3 linked regions of the Homo sapiens genome follow. The protein of the gene in region 1 interacts with the protein of each later gene in a pairwise test. Each region holds a gene or a part of one and is shown on either strand. Other genes may lie near its edges.

Region 1 (5,567 bases):
TTGATTACCCTTCCCTGGGCTCCCTTACATTTTTATGGAGCTGTGGAGAAGCTAGAAGGCAGATAATTTAACAAGAATGAGGGCTACAGATGAAGCTGCCATGACAGTTAAGAAAGAAATGTCAGAGTGGAAGAGGACAAGCAGGGTACAGGTTGAGCATTCCAAATCTGAAATGTTCCAAAATCTGAGCTGTTTGAGCACCAGCATGATGCTCAAAGGAAATGCTCATTGGAGCATTTTGGATTTTGGATCTTTGGTTAGGGATGCCCAACTGGTATAATGCAAATATTCCAAAATCTGAAAAAAATCCAAAATTCAAAAATCTTCTGACCCCAAGCATTTCAGATAAGGGAAAATTAACCTGTATTTTCAACCGCCATTGGGAGACCTGAACAAGGTATAGGTCAAAAGGAAAGTTAGCTGATGAAGTAGAAATGAATGACAGTGGTGTGTGCTTCATAAGTGCTGGTTGTGGGAATGAATGAACTTGTAACAGATACTCCTATGCAAAGCAAGAAACTTCTGAAGAAATGGAACAAGGTGGAGAAGCCTCGGGAATGCCCAACATTCCGAGGCTTCTCAGGATTGCAGAAAGAGAGGGAACAAATCACAAGCAGAGGGTTGGCTTCTGGTGAGGCCATTTGGTCCTCAGAGACTTGAGAAAAGAGAGAGTAAGCAAGGTGGGCTACTTGGCCAAAGAGCTGAGAAGGGGGTGTGAATTTTCCTTATTGACATTTGTTTAACTTAGAGAAACTGGGAGCTAAATCTCAGCTAAAGTAGAAATGTCTTAAAGCTCAAGAGGAGAAGTGAAATTTTGCATTAAGATTAGTGAAGACTGAGCCAGGCTCCACTAAAGGAAGAGATATGATGTTCAGTAACTTAGAGCAGAGTTATGCAACTGGAGAATAGGAATCTGCTATTGTGCCTGTAGGTACATTTAGTATCAGGCAACTAACAGGTAATTCATAGTGCCTATAATAAAGATATTCATATAACAAAAAGTGTGAAGGTAGGCTATTTCAGGTTAGGTGCAATAGCTTAACCATGGTATCAAAGGTCTAGCCCCCTGCCCTCCTTCTAGTCCCCCTCCCTCACCCCCACCCCACTTTCTTAGCTCACTCTTTTTTCCCATTTCTCACTCCCATTTCCTTCCCTCACAATATTGGGCTTAATGCACTGTGGTTCTTAGAGTTTAGATGTCAACAGTAGAAAGACTCAGTGTGATCAAGGAATGTCACTGAAGTTATGGATGTCAGGGAACTTTAAGATGGATGTGTTGAATACATGCAGACACTGAAGACACCCTGGATGATAAACACTTTACATAAAGAAATGTATGTAGTGTAAATTATATTAAAATATACTCTTCATGCTTCTTAAATGTCTTTGAAAACTTGACTAGTTTACCAACAGAACACTAATAAATTAAATGCACATGTCTAAAAATTAAAAACTTTGTGTAAAATAATACTTTTCAGTTGGGTGCAGTGGCTCATGCTTGTAATCCCAGCACTTTGGGAGGCCGAGGTGAGTGGATCACGAGGTCAGGAGTTTGAGACCAGCCTGGCCAACACAGTGAAACCCTGTCTCTACTAAAAATACAAAAATTAGTTGGGCATGGTGGCACGTGCCTGTAGTCCCAGCTACTCGGGAGGCTGAGGCAGGAGAATTGCTTGAACCTGGGAGGCAGAGGTGGCAGTGAGCTGAAATCATGCCACTGCACTCCAGCCTGGGTGACAGAGCTAGACTCTGTCTCAAAAAAAAAAAAAAACAAAACAAAACTTTTCATCTTTGTAACTTTAGCTTACTTCCTTGTAAACCCCATAAAAATCAGTCCAAGTGCAATGAGTTGAGTTTCATTTGTTTTTCCCCAGAGTAGTATGTCCATCAGATGAATGTAGAACTAGCAGGGGCTAAGTCCTTCCATGTTCAGAAATTCTGTGAGAGATGTCAGAAGACCTGGTAAATAATAACCTTTTTTTCTTGTTCAGATTCAGAACCAATTGACAGGGATGCAGGAGTAAAATAGATGGTTCTGGAAACCTCAGTTTCTTACTGACAGAAGTTAGACTGGATAAAAACGGCTTAAAGGCAGAGCTAAATAGGCTTGTACTGGCAGAGGAGGAGTGTAGCAGATGTCCCTCTGCATAGGTCTTCTCAATGCAACTTGGGGCACCAAGGAGCATGGGATGTCTGCATCCTGCTCCTAAAGAGGACAGAGGGAGGAGTGTACCAAGGATACTCAGTTATTTCTCCCAGGCTCAACAGTTAGTTCCATCCTGAGGAGTGAGTGAGAGGTGGAGAGTGGCTAGAAATGTTTAATCTAGCCAAAGTCCTCCCCATGGAAACTTAAGAGAAATAAGTAAGTATCCCCCCACACCCACCCCAAGCCCCAAAAGATTTAAGCTTCAGCAGATTTATCATGTGTGAGAGAATATGATTGAGGATTTTTATAACATGTTCTTTTTTTCTTTCCCAGAGAGTGTGCACCCCAGATTCCTTGTAGTACTCCTATTGCTACTGAAAGGACAGTTGCACATTTGAACACTCTGAAGGACCGTCACCCAGGTGATTTGTGGGCCCGCATGCACATCTCATCCCTGGAATATGCTGCAGGAGACATTACCCGAAAAGGGAGAAAAAAAGACAAAGCTCGAGTGAGTGAACTGCTCCAAGGCCTCTCATTCTCTGGTGACTCAGATGTGGAAAAAGATAATGAGCCTGAGATCCAGCCTGCTCAAAAGAAGTTAAAGGTATCATGTTTCCCAGAAAAGAGTTGGACCAAAAGAGACATTAAACCCAATTTTCCAAGCTGGTCAGCACTGGATTCTGGACTTTTGAATCTCAAGAGCGAAAAGTTGAACCCAGTAGAGCTTTTTGAATTATTTTTTGATGATGAAACATTCAACTTAATTGTCAATGAAACCAATAATTATGCTTCTCAGAAAAATGTCAGCTTGGAAGTCACAGTTCAGGAAATGAGGTGTGTGTTTGGTGTCTTACTTTTGAGTGGATTTATGAGGCATCCTAGAAGGGAAATGTATTGGGAAGTCTCTGACACCGATCAGAACCTGGTTAGAGATGCAATCAGAAGGGACAGATTTGAATTGATTTTCTCAAACCTGCACTTTGCAGATAATGGCCACCTAGATCAAAAAGATAAGTTTACAAAGTTGAGACCTCTCATAAAACAAATGAATAAAAATTTCCTCTTGTATGCTCCCCTGGAAGAATACTATTGCTTTGATAAGTCAATGTGTGAATGCTTTGATAGTGACCAATTCCTGAATGGAAAGCCTATTAGAATTGGCTATAAAATTTGGTGTGGTACAACCACACAGGGTTATCTGGTTTGGTTTGAACCCTATCAAGAAGAATCAACTATGAAGGTAGATGAGGATCCTGATCTTGGGTTAGGTGGAAATCTAGTGATGAACTTCGCTGATGTTCTTTTAGAGAGAGGTCAGTATCCCTATCACCTGTGTTTTGATAGCTTCTTTACAAGTGTCAAATTGTTGTCAGCCTTGAAAAAGAAGGGGGTGAGGGCAACAGGAACAATTCGTGAGAACAGGACCGAAAAATGTCCCCTTATGAATGTAGAACATATGAAAAAAATGAAGAGAGGGTATTTTGATTTCCGAATAGAAGAAAACAATGAGATAATTTTGTGTCGTTGGTATGGGGATGGCATTATCAGTCTGTGCTCCAATGCTGTGGGCATAGAACCAGTCAATGAGGTAAGCTGTTGTGATGCTGATAACGAAGAAATCCCTCAGATAAGTCAACCATCCATAGTAAAAGTGTATGATGAATGCAAGGAAGGTGTAGCTAAAATGGATCAAATTATTTCGAAATACAGGGTGAGGATAAGAAGCAAGAAATGGTACTCAATTTTGGTGAGCTACATGATTGATGTAGCCATGAACAATGCATGGCAACTACACAGAGCCTGTAACCCAGGTGCTTCTCTAGACCCCTTGGATTTTCGGAGATTTGTTGCACATTTCTACTTGGAACACAATGCTCATCTGTCAGATTAGGGTACATAAAATGGACATAGTGCAGACATTAATAAGACATAGAAAAATAATAATTATACATGCTGTTGTACCCTCCCAAAGTAAATCTGATATATGTAATGAAGTTATTAAATAATACTTTTAAAAATCAGACATTTATATAGAGTTTCAAAGACTATTGTAACAAGTAATGTTAAAAATTGTCTGTGAGAATGTTGAACTGTAGTACCTTTCTCTATGTCAAGTTTTGTGTCAGACATGGGAAATCATGTATTTGTTCAATTGACTACTTTGTGCACTTATTTATTTATTTTTTGAGACACAGTCTCGCTCTGCGGCCAAGCTGGAGTGCAGTGGCACGATCTTGGCTCACTGCAACCTCTGACACCCTAGTTCAAGCGATTCTCCTGCCTCAGCCTCCCAAGTAGCTGGGATTACAGGCACGTGCTGCCATGCCTAGCTAATTTTTGTATTTTTAGTAGAGACAGGGTTTCACCATGTTGGCCAGGATGGTCTCGATCTGACCTCGTGATCTGCCTGCCTTGGCCTCCCAAAGTGCTGGGATTACAGGCGTGAGCCACCATGCCCAGCTATTTTGTGCATTTAAAGAAGGAAATCCTACCTCTTAAAAAAAATTATCTGGAGAATGCCATTTTTAAGATGCAAGCAATGTTACAGAAACCATAGAATGGTGCTGACTCAATAGTTCAAACTAGTGACACAGCCTATGAAGTAAGAATGATCTAAACAAAACATAGGTGGTAAGAGACTAAAAACCTTAGCATTGGTGTAAAACTGGATCGGATTGTGTGTAAGTGAGAAGGGTCAGGCATGGATATTGAAGGAGAGTGCTATAAAGGAAAAACCAGAGGTGAAGCAGTGCCTTTGAATATTGAAATGATAGGTGTATCCTATGGTGACTGTGTGAGTTGGCAGCAGAAGTCAGAAGAGTAAAGAAAACCAAGGAAACAGGCAAATCAGGGTAACAAGTAACCAGGAGAGTGAAGGAAAAGATAGGCATAAAGTCAACATAAAGGCCAAGTTGAAATCACCTGAGGAGATGTCTAGGCTTAAGGCCATCAGTGATAGGTAACTGAAGGAGAAACACTTGGAAAAGTGAATGATACGGACTGTGACTCCTTAGTGTTGAAGTCTAGCATTGGTGGATTAGTCTGGAGGGTAGAGAAGACAGGCTCCACCTCATTTCTGTGAGTTGTAGCCACAACAGCTCTTTGCCTTTCTTTCATATCCTAATATTTACAGTCCCTTTCCTGGCTGGAAGGCAGGTGGTCAGGTTTGAATTCTTTCAACAGGTATGTTTCTTATGTGGATGACTGGTGAAAGTGTAAGCTGCGTGTAATGTAGTCACAGATTCACCTATTCCATGCAAGATGTTCAAAGAAAATATAAGTTCATTATTTCCTGTAATTGATCTGATATTCTTTGTGAAATACATCACCAGCGTGGGTTGGTTTCACTTTTAAATGATGAAGTGTCTGGTGTCTAAGTATCTCCCCACAAAAGGGTATTAATAGAATGCAGGTTTTA
Region 2 (6,651 bases), on another chromosome or scaffold:
TTTGTGGCACCTAGGTCGAGATGGTACTCAGGCCAGGGGTCAGGATTCCTGGGTGCTCTGGTCCCGGTGCCTCTGTCTCATCTTTAGGCTGGGATTCCTGCCACCTTGCTGCTCTGGGGCCCAAATACTTTGAGACAAGGCTATAGGCTTGTCCCACTGACTCTCCTTTCCCTCCCTGGGGTCTCCTCTCTCTCCAGAGATGCCCTGTATCCAAGCCCAATATGGGACACCAGCACCGAGTCCGGGACCCCGTGACCACCTGGCAAGCGACCCCCTGACCCCTGAGTTCATCAAGCCCACCATGGACCTGGCCAGCCCCGAGGCAGCCCCCGCTGCCCCCACTGCCCTGCCCAGCTTCAGCACCTTCATGGACGGCTACACAGGAGAGTTTGACACCTTCCTCTACCAGCTGCCAGGAACAGTCCAGCCATGCTCCTCAGCCTCCTCCTCGGCCTCCTCCACATCCTCGTCCTCAGCCACCTCCCCTGCCTCTGCCTCCTTCAAGTTCGAGGACTTCCAGGTGTACGGCTGCTACCCCGGCCCCCTGAGCGGCCCAGTGGATGAGGCCCTGTCCTCCAGTGGCTCTGACTACTATGGCAGCCCCTGCTCGGCCCCGTCGCCCTCCACGCCCAGCTTCCAGCCGCCCCAGCTCTCTCCCTGGGATGGCTCCTTCGGCCACTTCTCGCCCAGCCAGACTTACGAAGGCCTGCGGGCATGGACAGAGCAGCTGCCCAAAGCCTCTGGGCCCCCACAGCCTCCAGCCTTCTTTTCCTTCAGTCCTCCCACCGGCCCCAGCCCCAGCCTGGCCCAGAGCCCCCTGAAGTTGTTCCCCTCACAGGCCACCCACCAGCTGGGGGAGGGAGAGAGCTATTCCATGCCTACGGCCTTCCCAGGTTTGGCACCCACTTCTCCACACCTTGAGGGCTCGGGGATACTGGATACACCCGTGACCTCAACCAAGGCCCGGAGCGGGGCCCCAGGTGGAAGTGAAGGCCGCTGTGCTGTGTGTGGGGACAACGCTTCATGCCAGCATTATGGTGTCCGCACATGTGAGGGCTGCAAGGGCTTCTTCAAGGTACCGCGCAGCCCCAGGTGGGGCCTTTTGTTGGAAATGGAGAGAGGCTGGCCTCATCCCATTGGGACCTGTGGTCTCCCCCTGGGTTCTCCTCCTAGCTAAGTCCTGTCCTGCAGGGTGGGATCAGCCCTGCCAGGTGGGCCGCCTTCCTGGAGACCCGTAGATGCCAGGGCTGGAAGCTTTCATTTGCCGGGACACTCGGGCCCATGGGATTGCACAGAGCTGGAGGGAGGGGTGAGATAGGGGCAGATAGGAGCTGCAGGGGTGCCTGGCGAGCCTCTGGTTTTCCTCTGCTCCTCTGCCTGTCCTCTCCCAACTCAAGGTTCTAGTGGGAAGGGGTGCCCCCAGGCTCTCATGTTCCTGGCGTGAGATGAAAGGATCCCTGCGGAGGGTTTGGTTCTTGAGGGCTGGGGGTGGACTTGGGAACAGGCTGTGTGTTTGTCCCAGCGATGGTGCCTGCTTAGCTTCCCGTCCCCACCCCCCAGCCCCTTGGCCCTCTCCTGTCTGCCCTAGGGAGAAGGCAGGTGGACAAGGGCCCATGAAAAAATACAGGTGTCTAGACTGCCAGGGAGACCCTGGCCCCCAGTAGTGTGTCCTGGGGACTTCCTCAGAGCGAGAAACCTCCCCCAATGTCTTCAAGACTTTTCTCTCCCCCCGCCCAACCCCGTCTCTCCCTCCCTTGCCACCCAAATGTTAGAAAAATAGCTGTGAACAGAGAGCGCTTTTGTCTGCAATGGCAGCAGGATCTGGACGGTCCCCTCCCCTAAGTTCCCCCCTCCCCACCCCACACTCTGACAGCTTGTTCCGTGTTGCCCCCCCACCCAGCGCACAGTGCAGAAAAACGCCAAGTACATCTGCCTGGCTAACAAGGACTGCCCTGTGGACAAGAGGCGGCGAAACCGCTGCCAGTTCTGCCGCTTCCAGAAGTGCCTGGCGGTGGGCATGGTGAAGGAAGGTGTGTGGCTGGGGTGCGGCCCAGCGGGGCAAGGGTAGGCTTGAGTGGAGTGGGACCAGCAGGGCCCCCAGGCTTCTGCCCTGGAGGACCCAGAGGAGGGCACGTCTTATTTCCACCCCACCTCTGAACCCCAGGCCTTGGAGGGAGGCAGCCTACACCTGCCTGGATTGTGAGGGTGGTGGCAGGGGGAGGTTCCTATAGGGTACCTTGGATCTCAGGGACTCTGGGTCCTAGGGACTCGGTGGGGCGCGTCTCAGCAGTGGTGTGCACGGCTTGGGCTGAGAGGCCCTTCCTCAGATCCCTTCCTTCCTCACCCCTACCCATTCCTTTGCAGTTGTCCGAACAGACAGCCTGAAGGGGCGGCGGGGCCGGCTACCTTCAAAACCCAAGCAGCCCCCAGATGCCTCCCCTGCCAATCTCCTCACTTCCCTGGTCCGTGCACACCTGGACTCAGGGCCCAGCACTGCCAAACTGGACTACTCCAAGGTGAGGTCCCACCCCGTGTCTGCCTTGGGGAGGTCTATGAGCACATGCAGTGCCTTTGTGCGTGTTAGGAGAGCTACCCCCTCTGGAAGGACTGAATGAGAAAGGAGGTTTAAAAAAGAAAGAAAGAAAAGCGACTCCCTCCAGTTCGACAGATCAAAGAGAGGATCCCCCTCTCGGCTGACCAGATGGGAAAATGCACCCCCTCAGGCAGGTGGCCAATTAGAAAAATATGTCCTTTTGGCAGCTGCAGCCCTGGGTTAATATGTGAGACTTGGCAAGTGAGAGCCTGGGCAGGATCTCAGATCCACTCCCACTCCCGGGATCTGGCATCCAAGTGTCTGACACAGCCATACGTGGCAGTGGGTGTAGGAGCCTGCCTGGGGTGCTGACCCCACTGGACCGTCTTCCTAGTTCCAGGAGCTGGTGCTGCCCCACTTTGGGAAGGAAGATGCTGGGGATGTACAGCAGTTCTACGACCTGCTCTCCGGTTCTCTGGAGGTCATCCGCAAGTGGGCGGAGAAGATCCCTGGCTTTGCTGAGCTGTCACCGGCTGACCAGGACCTGTTGCTGGAGTCGGCCTTCCTGGAGCTCTTCATCCTCCGCCTGGCGTACAGGTGAGAGCCACTGACTGTCTGCCCAGCCCCTTTCCCTGATACACCTGCCTGTGAACCACCCTGATCGCTCTTCGTGCCCATCTGCCTGCCAGGTCTAAGCCAGGCGAGGGCAAGCTCATCTTCTGCTCAGGCCTGGTGCTACACCGGCTGCAGTGTGCCCGTGGCTTCGGGGACTGGATTGACAGTATCCTGGCCTTCTCAAGGTCCCTGCACAGCTTGCTTGTCGATGTCCCTGCCTTCGCCTGCCTCTCTGCCCTTGTCCTCATCACCGGTGAGTGACCAGCACCACACCAGGTCCAAGGGAATGGGCGTCAGGGGGTTGACTGGTTCTCAGGAGGGCACTGTCCCAGGGAGTTTGGTGGGCCGGGATCTAGCACTTTCTGGGCCCCTGCACTGCCCCGGGCTCATGCCAGCAGTAAAGTAGGGACCATAGGAATTGCAGATGGGCTCAGCTGCATCCAGCTCTAAAGCGCAAGACAGCCTTTGGTCCCAGACTGTCAGGATCCAGACTGCAGGTGTCATGTATGTGGCCTAGGGTATTGGCTTGTTTTTAAAACCTTCCTGTCAATTATGCTGCATATAGAAAAGTACACAAATGGTAAATTTTCATAAACCGCACTTACCCAACCAGCGCCTTGGTCAAGAAAGAGCACATAACTGCCCCCCAGAACCCATTATTGTGCCCCCTTCCAGTCATTTGCCCTCCCCAAGGGTAACCACTACTTTTTATTTAAATATTTTAAAAATAAGATGGGAATCTCACTATGTTGCCCGAGCTGGTCTCGAACTCCTGGGCTCAAATGATCCTCCTGTCTCAGCCTCCTAAAGTGCTGGGATTACAGGTGTGAGCCACCACGCCTAGCCCTTCACTGTGACTTCTGACAGTGCAGATCAGATTGGTTGTGCCTGTTTTGGACTTTATGTAAATGTAGTTCTGCAGGATGGAATCTGGTGTTGAATGCAGAGGTTTTCAGATTTCTCTGTTTTTTAAAGGAAAGAATCCACCCTCGTTCATTTTTTCACTTAAATTGCACAGGGGACCCAACGATATAGAACACAATCAGAGGTACTCTGGGCTGAGGGAGTGCTGAGTTCTGAGGCTGGGTTTCTCAGAACAGTCTAGATTTTAAAAACCCAATGATCTAGCCAGAAAACGTAGGTTAGGATTTTATTTCCCGTTTGTGACCCTGGGCAAGTCATTAGCCTCCTGGGCCTCGGGTTCTCACTTGGAGTATGAGGATAATGAGGGTTACTGCTTCTCAGACTTGTGACGATGCTTACTAATGGCCAACATGTGAATGCGCTTTTGTGAAGTGCCAGCAGAGCATGAGGGGTGGTCAGGGGCAGCAGTTTTAGGGGCCTGGGGGAGGCTGGGGCTTTGGGGGCCTGGTTCTCAGATGTACAGCTAATCCTGTACCCTTCCCGCAGACCGGCATGGGCTGCAGGAGCCGCGGCGGGTGGAGGAGCTGCAGAACCGCATCGCCAGCTGCCTGAAGGAGCACGTGGCAGCTGTGGCGGGCGAGCCCCAGCCAGCCAGCTGCCTGTCACGTCTGTTGGGCAAACTGCCCGAGCTGCGGACCCTGTGCACCCAGGGCCTGCAGCGCATCTTCTACCTCAAGCTGGAGGACTTGGTGCCCCCTCCACCCATCATTGACAAGATCTTCATGGACACGCTGCCCTTCTGACCCCTGCCTGGGAACACGTGTGCACATGCGCACTCTCATATGCCACCCCATGTGCCTTTAGTCCACGGACCCCCAGAGCACCCCCAAGCCTGGGCTTGAGCTGCAGAATGACTCCACCTTCTCACCTGCTCCAGGAGGTTTGCAGGGAGCTCAAGCCCTTGGGGAGGGGGATGCCTTCATGGGGGTGACCCCACGATTTGTCTTATCCCCCCCAGCCTGGCCCCGGCCTTTATGTTTTTTGTAAGATAAACCGTTTTTAACACATAGCGCCGTGCTGTAAATAAGCCCAGTGCTGCTGTAAATACAGGAAGAAAGAGCTTGAGGTGGGAGCGGGGCTGGGAGGAAGGGATGGGCCCCGCCTTCCTGGGCAGCCTTTCCAGCCTCCTGCTGGCTCTCTCTTCCTACCCTCCTTCCACATGTACATAAACTGTCACTCTAGGAAGAAGACAAATGACAGATTCTGACATTTATATTTGTGTATTTTCCTGGATTTATAGTATGTGACTTTTCTGATTAATATATTTAATATATTGAATAAAAAATAGACATGTAGTTGGAACTGAGATTCAGTCTGTCTCTGATGCCCCCTCCCCACTCCCCCACCAGACACACCCCATCATTACATAAGAGATGGGCTGCTCAAGATGAAACTTGGATGTTACCAGCCTGAGCTGTCAGGCCTCAGTGTACTCATTTGTAAAAGGCGGATAATAATGACACCTGCTTCACGAGGTTGTTATGCAAAGCACTTAGACTAATTTCTAACACGTGGGAAGCCTGCATTAGCTGTGCCTGGCTAGCTGTGCCTGGCTCATTGCTGGGGTCTGCAGTGGCTGACTAGCCCAGGGGTCACTGCAGGGCCCTAGCAATAGACTTAGCCGCAGATCTCAGGGTTGTCATGTTTCCTAAACTGGACATATATTCTCTGATTCTTGATTTCCACATCCATAAAACAAGAATAGACCCAGCCTCACAGAGCTTTTACGGTCAGAGGAGTGTGTGTGTAATGCTTAGCATGGGCTGGGTTTAAGTAAGCCCAAATTGGTAGTAGCTGTTACATTCAGGGTTTTAACATCCCCATTCTCAACATTCCTCCCCACTCTCCTGCCACCCCAGCAAGAAGATCCAGGGATCTGGCGGCCCTCACCTTCTCGGCAAGAAGATTGTACTGAAGTCCCTACCTGTGCCCGTGTCCCCACGTAGGCCCTCCAACCCCCTAGGCTCGTCAGTTGTTTAGTCAGCTGGCTTAAAATGCAGATTCCTGGGATCTACCCCCAGAGACTCAGATCTGGGGAGGTGAGGGGGCCCCAAACCTTCAGTTCTAGCAAGTACCCAGGTGCTTGTGATGCAGGTGGCCTGGGGCCACCCTTCTGAGAAACATGTGGATGGACCTAACCTGAGGCCCATGGGAGTTGGTCATCATGCAGGGTCTGGCACCTTCCTGTGCTCGGTGCTCACCCAGCCTCACTGTTTGCTTCTCTAGGACCCAGCAGGAGGCCTGAAGGCAGTGCCCTCACACGTGTTCCTCACAGCCCTTGGCCCAGGACCCCCCAAGTCTCCACCTCCATGGCTCCTGGGAAGTGGCTGGCTGAGGGGCAGCTCCTACTGGATGGGGCCCGACAGAATAGGGCTCTCAGCTGTGGATGGGGGGAAGCAGGGGCCTTCCCTGGTGCTCCAGCCACAGCTTGCAGGGAGCCCCCATCCACATACCCTCACTCAGGTTCTGGGAGCACAGTCCAGCCTCAGGCCTGCTGAAGGTCCGAGTGAGGCTGGGGTAGGGAGACCACGGTCCCGACCCTGGGACATGCTCCCAGCAGTGCTGTGGACTTCCAAACA
Region 3 (8,274 bases), on another chromosome or scaffold:
ACAGAGAATAGCAGATATAAAGGGCCAGACAGTCTCAGTTTCAACTACTCAACTCTGCCTCGTGGCAAGTAAGCAACCAGAGCCCTGTGCGTACCCACAGGTTTGGCATGTTCTTATGCATCTTCATTTACAAAAACAGGTGGCCAGGTGTGGTGGCTCACACCTGTAATCCCAGCACTTTGGGAGGCCACGGTAGGTGGACAGCTTGAGCCCAGGAGCTCAAGAACAGCCTGGGCAACATACCAAAACTTCATCTCTACAAAAAATAGAAAAATTAGCTAGGCACAGTGGTGCATGCCTGTGGTCCCAGCTACTCTGGAGACTGAGGTTGGAGGATCACCTGAACCCAGGAGGTCAAGGCTTCAGTGAGCTGTGATCACAACACCACATTGCAGCCTGGGTAACAGAGTGAGACCCTGTCGCAAAAAAAAAAAAAAAAAAAAAAAAAAAAAATTAGCCAGGCGTGGTGGCACACACCTGTGGTCCCAGCTACATGGGAGGCTAATGTGGGAGGACCCCTTAATCCCAGGAGTTGGAGGCTGCAGTGAGCTATGTTTGTGCCACTGTACTCCAGCATAAGCGACACAGCAAGATCCTGTCTCTAATGAATACAAACAAAACAGGTCACTGCTGGCCTGCAGGTGGGTACGCTAACCCCTGTTCTGGAGCCTCTCCTGATGGGAGGCGTGACGCCAGCTCTACCCCCTGGCAATGGAGGCACAGAGCTCTACTTGGTGCATGGACAGAGGTGTGGTCCTGCAGGCATGTAATTTTGGCTTTCTTAGGACGCCAGAGGCTTGTTCACCTTGCAGAGAACCTGTCTCCACAAAACAAACTGTGAGCTCCATAATGTGTGTGCACAGAACCTTCCCTCATCAGAACCTCACAATCCCAGAGGGGTAGGAACCACATGCAGCCCCAAGGTGCAAGTGGGAAATAGAGGCACGAGGCAGGCAATCACTAAGGCTGGGACCCCACCTGCAAAGTGACGCTGCCACTCATCCTTCCCCGTCCAGGCCCATAAGCCTGCCCTTTAAGAGGCCTCCTGCCGGCCCTCCCCTCTAGCCCTCATGGCCTCCACAGTGGGCAGATCCCAGCCAGCTCCCCCAGCCCCTCTCCTCCTGCTCCAACTTCCCAGCTCTGAGCATGGTGGAGGCATCGGGGTCTAGGTAGAATGAGCAAGGGTCCTCGGCCATTGGCAGGGGCGGGATGACGTGGGGAGGACGGGACACCCTCCGGCTGGGTCACTGGCCAAGACAGTGGGGGACACATGTCAGCCCCTGGGGACAGGAACGGGAGCTCCTCGCCTCTGTGCCCTTCCCCCTCAGCATTACAAGTTGTGAGCCTCTCTGGGAAGCCACCTCTGCCTCCACTTCCTCCATTCACCTGCAAAGCAGAAGCTTCCATGGAACCAGGGGTCTCCTAAAACGCCCAACTCCAAGGAAGCTGCTGCCTCCTGTGAAAACAGCCTCTCCCTGTTCATCTCCCTTCCTACTGGGACCCTGATGCTCACAGCCAGGAGGATGAGGCCATCTCAAGAGCCTCCAGAAATCTCTGGCCCTGTGTCTTCTTGCCTCCTTCAGCCCCATTCCTGGCCACACTGTCAAGAGGACTCTCAGAGATCTCACCGGGGCAGGTGCGGCAGCGTACATCTATAATCTCAGAGCCTGGGGAGTCTTAAGCAGGAGGACTGCTTGAGCCCAGGAGTTGGAGGCTGTGATTGGCCACTGCACTCCAGCCTGGGCGACAGAATGAGCCCGTGTCTCACAAACAAACAAAATAGAGATACCACTGGGACCCTTTCCTGCCACAGCCTGCTTGAATGAGGCCACACCTCGTTGGAGTCTGGCTTGGTCACTGGGCAAACCTCCCTCCCCTAATCTTGGGACTGTCCAGGATTTGCCTCAGATGGGATTTTCCTGGAGCCCAGCCCCCCAGCCTCAGCAAATGAAGCAATCTGCACAAGTCTTGAGCCAGTCCTGTAGGCTTTGCTGCACCCAGAGGCCTGGAATACAGAAGCTGAGGCAGAGAGCTCCACGGTGGGTGAGGGGTGGCTGAGCTGAGGGGTCCCAAGCCTGGTGGGTCTCCAGAGTCCTGCAGCAAATCCCCTTCATCCTGGGCTGAGCAGAGCTCAAGCCTGGTTTGGCCCTCCGTGGGCCCAGCCCTGGCCACCTGAGGAATATTCATCGCAGCTCTCCATCCCACCACACTCATCGGCAGGGTCTAGCAAACCACCCCACAGCCACAGGCCTGAGGATCAGCCAGGGAAGCTCAATGCATGGGATGTGGTTGTTGATGGGTCGCCGGATATTCCCAGGGTCTGCCCTGGCTTCATCCACAGATCACTTACTCATTATAAAAAGGGGTAAAAGTGCTTTTAAAAGAATGAAAAAACATGGAGTAAGGGTCGTCGTTCACATCTCAGCTGCCTTTTGTGGTCCCTGATCCACTCGCCAGGACAGACAGAACCAGAGAGATGTCCTGCGCAACTGGCCTAGGCTCCCCGAAAACCCGAGGCCAGAAATACCCAGGAAGTCACAGATTCAAGCATCATGCACAGAAAACAGCAACTCGATGCGACACGTGGTCCCGCTCTGACTCCAGGGCAGGAAACCATCCGCAGGACATGATGGGATGGGGGAAGTGAAATGGAACCGAGGAGGTGACATGGAACCAAGTGACTGTGCCACTCAGCCTCGCCCAGGAGTCAGCAAGGACACAGGCGAATATATGGGAAAGTGGAAGGAGGGCAGACAGAAATGGGGGAAGCGGGGAGGGAAGGTAGCAGGGAGAGAGAAGACAGGAGAGGAAGGAGCAAGAGCAGGGAAAGCCAGATAGTCTGGACGGGGGTAGAGGGGGATTGGGAAAAGGAAGGAGCCCAGGAGGGTGAGAGAAAGGAAATGGGGAAGGAGTGATGGGAGGGTGAGTCAGGCCCCCACCCCAACCCCCTGGGTCAGGACCGAAGCCAGTACACCCACTCTTGCCTCTTCCACGAGAGAGGTCTCCGGGGTGGGCGCAGACACCTAACTCAAACAGAACCCACCCCCAGGTGACTGGGGAGAGGCGAGATATTCCAAGGGTGGGGGCAGCAGAGACAATGCCCATTCTAGGCACCCCTTTGGTCCCCGCACCCTCCATCCCTTCCCTGCTCCAGCCCCTGGGGCCACAGCCTGCCCAGCGTCCCCCCACCACGGACACCCTCACATCCTCACACCCTCAGCCCCCACTTCCTCCCCTCCTCTTCCCTTCAGGAGCCTCCCCCTCCCTTCTCTTCCCCACTCAGGAGCCTCCCCCTCCCCCTTTTCGCCCCCCTCAGGAGCCTTCCCCTCCCCCCTTTCTCCCCCATCAGGAGCCTCCCCCTCCCTCATCTCTCCCCCATCAGGAGCCGCCCCTTCCTGTTCTCCCACCCACAGGGTGCCCTAAGCGCCTCCCCTCCACGAGCCTACACGGGGTGGGGGTTGCACTAGTTCCCTACCTGCCTGCAGGGCCCCTCACCGATCTGGATCTCAGCCACCTCCGGGGGGACCCGGCCCCTGCCCCGCACTCCACGCGAAGGGATGCCAGACCCTCGGCCTCCTGGACGCACAGCGGGGGCTCGCACCCCAACCCCGGGAACACCCTGGCCCCTTTCCCTAACGCTGCCCACTGAGGCGTCCTCACCGTCTACCCTGTTGGGGTCGCTCTCTGACCCCCGCGCTGCATCCCCGGGACCGACCCACCTGCTGCGCAGCTACCCCAGGCCGGTCCCAGCCGCCCGGAGCCCCAGTGCGCGATGGCGGCCGGCAAACTGCGCCTGCGCACTGGGCCTCACCGCGGACTACGACTCCCACAATGCCGCGAGGCTGTGCCGCGCACCGGGGCGAGCAAGGGAGCCGTGACAGGTGACAGTGCGCATGGCCAATCAGACGCGAGTGTGGCCTCCCGGCGTCCCGCCCACTCCGGCGCCTGCGTCATTTTGGGCACCATGGCAACGAAGTAAACAAGCGGGTAAATAATAGACCCCTGACAGCCAGAGACCCGGAGAAACAAAGACGGTGAGAAACGGAGAAACAAAGACAAAAAGACGCGCAGACCGGGAGGGAGAGAAGCATGAAGGCCCACAGACGCTCGGGGGCAGACCAAGACGCCCTGGGGTCCCCGAAACAGAGATGTACAGAGTCGGACACGGAAAGGGAGAGACCAGCTCACGGTTAAGAAAGGAGGGAGACCAGCCCAGGATCAAGAAAGGGAAAGACCAGCATGGGCTCAAGAAAAGAAAGAGACCAGCTCAGGCTCAGGAAAAGAGAGAGACCCAGAGAAAAGGAGCACTCGAGGCTGAGACAGATCTGGACAGAGATACAGAGACAGGGACCAGCAGACCCAGTACTGGGGAGACAAGAGGTGGAGACCCAGAGACACTGATGCGCTAAAATGGGTTCTACAGTTTCAAGGAGTGGATAGAACTCAAAGATTACCCACCCCAGGGATTCAGGAGCTGCTGAAATGAGGGAAATGTGAGTGGCAGCTGGGGTGAGGGCTTTGGCAAAGCCCCATATAAATGTAGCCCCCCTGGAAGGCAGGATAGGGCCAGGAGCTGCTTCCCATTTCAGTTTTCCAGATAGAGGCGCTTATGAGGATGCCATTTTGGTCGTTTTTGTGTGAACTGATTTTTAAAATGTATATCTGAACAGTTTATATATTTTAAATTTACATACACCACACATTTTGGTATTCAGTTTTATGAATTTTAACTCATATCCACCAACAAACTCGGGACAAAGAATAGCTCCACTGCCCAAAAATCCTCCTGCTGCCTCTTGGTAGTCACTCCCTCCCCACCCATAACCCCAGGAACAGCTAATCTAAGTAGTCCACTGCTACAATTTTGCCTTCACAGTGTCATATAAGTGGGATCATACAGTATGTGGCCTCTTCAGATTGGCTTTTTCACTGAACATAATTCCTTTGAGAGGCATTGAAGTAGTATGTATCAACAGTTCATTCCATTTTATTGAGAAGTAGTATTCTATGGTATATAGCAGTTTAAACCTTCTCCCACTGAGAGATATTAGGATCGTTTTAAGTATTTTGCTATTAAAAATAAAGCTGCTATGAACATTCGTGTACAGATTTTTCTGTGAACGTAAGTTTTCACTTTTCTGGGATAAAAGCCCAAGAGTGCAGTTTCTAGGTCACACAATGAACACGTGCTTATTAGTGTTGTAAGAAGCTGCCACACTCTCATGCAGAGTAGCTGGACCATTTTACACTCCCACCACCAATGAATGTGTGAATCCACTTCACATTTTTATCAGCATTTGTGTTTTGCTATTTTTTATTTTGGCCATTCTGATAGGTATGTACTGATATATCATTGTGGTTTCAATTTGCATTTCCCTTAATTGCTAACAAGTTTGAGCACACTTTAATGATTTTTTTGGCATTTGTATACCCTCTTCATTAAAGTATCTGTTCGTATCTTTTGCCCATTTTCTAATTTTTAAAAAAATTGCTCAGTTTTGAAAGCTATGTTTTTTTTTTTTTTGAGACAAGGTCTCACTCTGTCACTGAGGCTAGAGTGCAGTGGTGCCATCATGAATCACTGCAGCCTTGACCTTCCAGGCTCAAGTGATCCTCACCTCAGCCTCCCGAGTAGCTGGAACTACAGGTGTGCGCTACCATACCCAGCTAATTTTTTTTTTTAAGAGATGGGGTCTCACTATAATGCTAAGGCTGGTCTCAGACCCCCGGGCTCAAGCAATCCTCCCACCATGGCCTCCCAAAGTGCTGGGATTACAGGCATGAGCCACCATGCCCAGTCTTTCCAGTTTATTTTAATGGATATAACTCAGGAACTGCCAAATGGAAGAGATGCACAGCTAAGGTCTGGTCAGGGGCACTGAAGGTGCAGTGCATCCATGTACCGTCTGGGTGAGCCATCCTCCCAGCACTCAGATGTGTTCACCAACCCAGCTCTCTCAATCGTGGGGCAGAGAGAGGGTCCATACCTTCTTTAAGGTGACTATCCCCATCCTGAAGATATCTATGGGTCCCACTGGAGTCACCTCATTAGCATAAACTCAGGTGTGGTCGAAACGGGCTCCTTATGAATTGCAAACCCTATTCCTATTATTCACAAAATTCCAAGGCTTTTAGCTCTGTGCCAGGAACCAGGGATAAAGATCAAATGTAAGGGCCAGGCGCGGTGGCTCATGCCTGTAATCCCAGCACTCTAGGAGGCCAGCGGGCGGATCACGAGGTCAACATGGTGAAACCCTGGCTCTACTAAAAATACAAAAATTAGCCAGGCATGGTGGCAGGTGCCTGTAATTGCAGCTGCTCGAGAGGCTGAGGCAGCTTGAAACTGGAAGGCAGGGGCTGCAGTGAGTTGAGATCGCACCACTGCACTCCAGCCTGGGCAAAAGAGCAAAACTCCATCTAAAAAAAAAAAGAAAAAAGATGAAATGTAGGTTTTATTACACCACAGATGGCCAATTGTTCTTGCACCATCTGGAAAAGGCTATCTTTCCTGCATTGAATAGCTTTTGCTCCTTAAAAAATCAGTCAGGAATATCTTTGCAGGTCTATTTCCGGGTTCTCGATTCCGTTCCACTGATCTATGTGTCTGCCAATACCACATTGGGTTACCACGGCTACAGAGTAACAACATCAGGTGCAGTTATTCCTCCCACTTTTTTTTTTTTTTTTTTTTTTTTTGAGACAGAGTCTTGCTCAGTTGCCCAGGCTGGAGCGCAGTGGCGCGATCTCGGCTCACCGCAAGCTCCACCTCCCGGGTTCACGCCATTCTCCTGCCTCAGCCTCCCGAATAGCTGGGACTACAGGCGCCCGCCACCATGCCCAGCTAATTTTTTTTTTTTTTTTTTTTTTTGTATTTTTAGTAGAGACAGGGTTTCACCATGTTAGCCAGGATGGTCTCGATCTCCTGACCTCATGATCCACCCGCCTTGGCCTCCCAAAGTGCTGGGATTACAGGCATGAGCCACTGCGCCCGGCCACTTTTTTTCTTTTTCAAAGTTATTTTAACTATTCCAAGTCTTGTGCTTTCCCATATACTTTATCTTCTTCTTTTTTTTTTTTTTTTTTGAGACAGAGTCTTGCTCTGTCACCCAGGTTGGAGTGCAGTGATGCAATTTCAGCTCACTGTAAACTCTGCCTCCTGGGTTCAAGTGGTTCTTCTGCCTCAGCCTCCTGAGTAGCTGGGATTACAGGTATGTGCTACCATGCCTGGCTAATTTTTGTATTTTTAGTAGAGACGGGGTTTCACCATGTTGACCAGGCTGGTCTCAAACTCTTGACCTCAGGTGATTCGCCCACCTTGGCCTCCCAAAGTGCTAGGATTACAGGTGTGAGCCACCGCACCCAGCCTTTTTTTTTTCTTTGTTTTTTGAGACAGAATCTCACTCCTAACCATGCTGCTAATATTTACATGGTCCTGCACCAGTGTGTTCATGTAATTTCACATAACTTTTTTCTTTAATTAGGGTTGAGTTTCCTATATAGGCCTTCTAAGCAGCCAGAGATCACACACTTAAATGAGCACCTATTAGCTTCCAGGCATATTATGTTTTCTTTTATAAATAAAAGCCTCAAAATGCACACATGCATACACACACACACGATTACTGACCAAAAGGTATTTCAGTATAAAAGCTAGAGTAGAAGCTCCATAAGGACGGTGACTTTTCCCTGTTTAGGCAGCTTACTAAAAAACCCCATATACTCAGCCGGGCGCAGTGGTTCACGCCTGTAATCCCAGCAATTTGGGAGGCCGAGGTGGGCTGCTCACGAGGTCAGGAGATTGAGACCATCCTGGCTAACACGGTGAAACCCTGTCTCTACCAAGAAAATACAAAAAAATTAGCCGGGCATGGTGGCGGGCGCCTGTAGTCCCAGCTACTAGGGAGGCTGAGGCAGGAGAATGGTGTGAACCCGGGAGGCAGAGCTTGCAGAGAGCCAAGATCACGCAACTGCACTCCAGCCTGGGCGACAGAGCAAGACTCCATCTCAAAACAAACAAACAAACAAACAAACAAACAAACCATATACTCTTCTGTGCTGTTTGGCTTCCCCCCACATTATGAACTTTAAAAATCTTGCAATAAAATAACAATTATGGCTGACACAGGCTATAAGAAAGAAGGCAGGTAACAATGATTATTCAGCAAGGTAGGAAGGACTACAATGGCACACAGACTTGCCATTTTGTACTGCATCGGATATGTCAATGTTAATTGTCATCTCAGCAACAAGATTTTTTCCTTGAGAGTTGTATTT

The links. The genes of interacting proteins can lie anywhere in the genome.
Region 2: the proteins of PGBD1 (region 1) and NR4A1 interact in binary tests that used the Homo sapiens proteins (3 or more experiments, as listed by UniProt).
Region 3: the proteins of PGBD1 (region 1) and ZSCAN18 interact in binary tests that used the Homo sapiens proteins (3 or more experiments, as listed by UniProt).

Annotation. Positions count from the first base shown.
Region 1 is NC_000006.12:28,298,245-28,303,811, forward strand, and holds the end of PGBD1 (piggyBac transposable element-derived protein 1), read left to right. Parts: intron 1-2,479; coding exon 2,480-4,040; 3' UTR 4,041-4,305; downstream 4,306-5,567.
Region 2 is NC_000012.12:52,054,130-52,060,780, forward strand, and holds the end of NR4A1 (nuclear receptor subfamily 4immunitygroup A member 1), read left to right. Parts: intron 1-197; coding exon of another isoform or gene 198-199; coding exon 200-1,075; intron 1,076-1,900; coding exon 1,901-2,030; intron 2,031-2,364; coding exon 2,365-2,516; intron 2,517-2,927; coding exon 2,928-3,130; intron 3,131-3,222; coding exon 3,223-3,401; intron 3,402-4,558; coding exon 4,559-4,815; 3' UTR 4,816-5,374; downstream 5,375-6,651. UniProt on the Homo sapiens protein: Orphan nuclear receptor. Binds the NGFI-B response element (NBRE) 5'-AAAGGTCA-3'. Binds 9-cis-retinoic acid outside of its ligand-binding (NR LBD) domain.
Region 3 is NC_000019.10:58,094,455-58,102,728, forward strand, and holds the start of ZSCAN18 (zinc finger and SCAN domain-containing protein 18), read right to left. Parts: upstream 3,778-8,274; 5' UTR 3,720-3,777; exon of another isoform or gene 3,476-3,719; intron 1-3,475. UniProt on the Homo sapiens protein: May be involved in transcriptional regulation.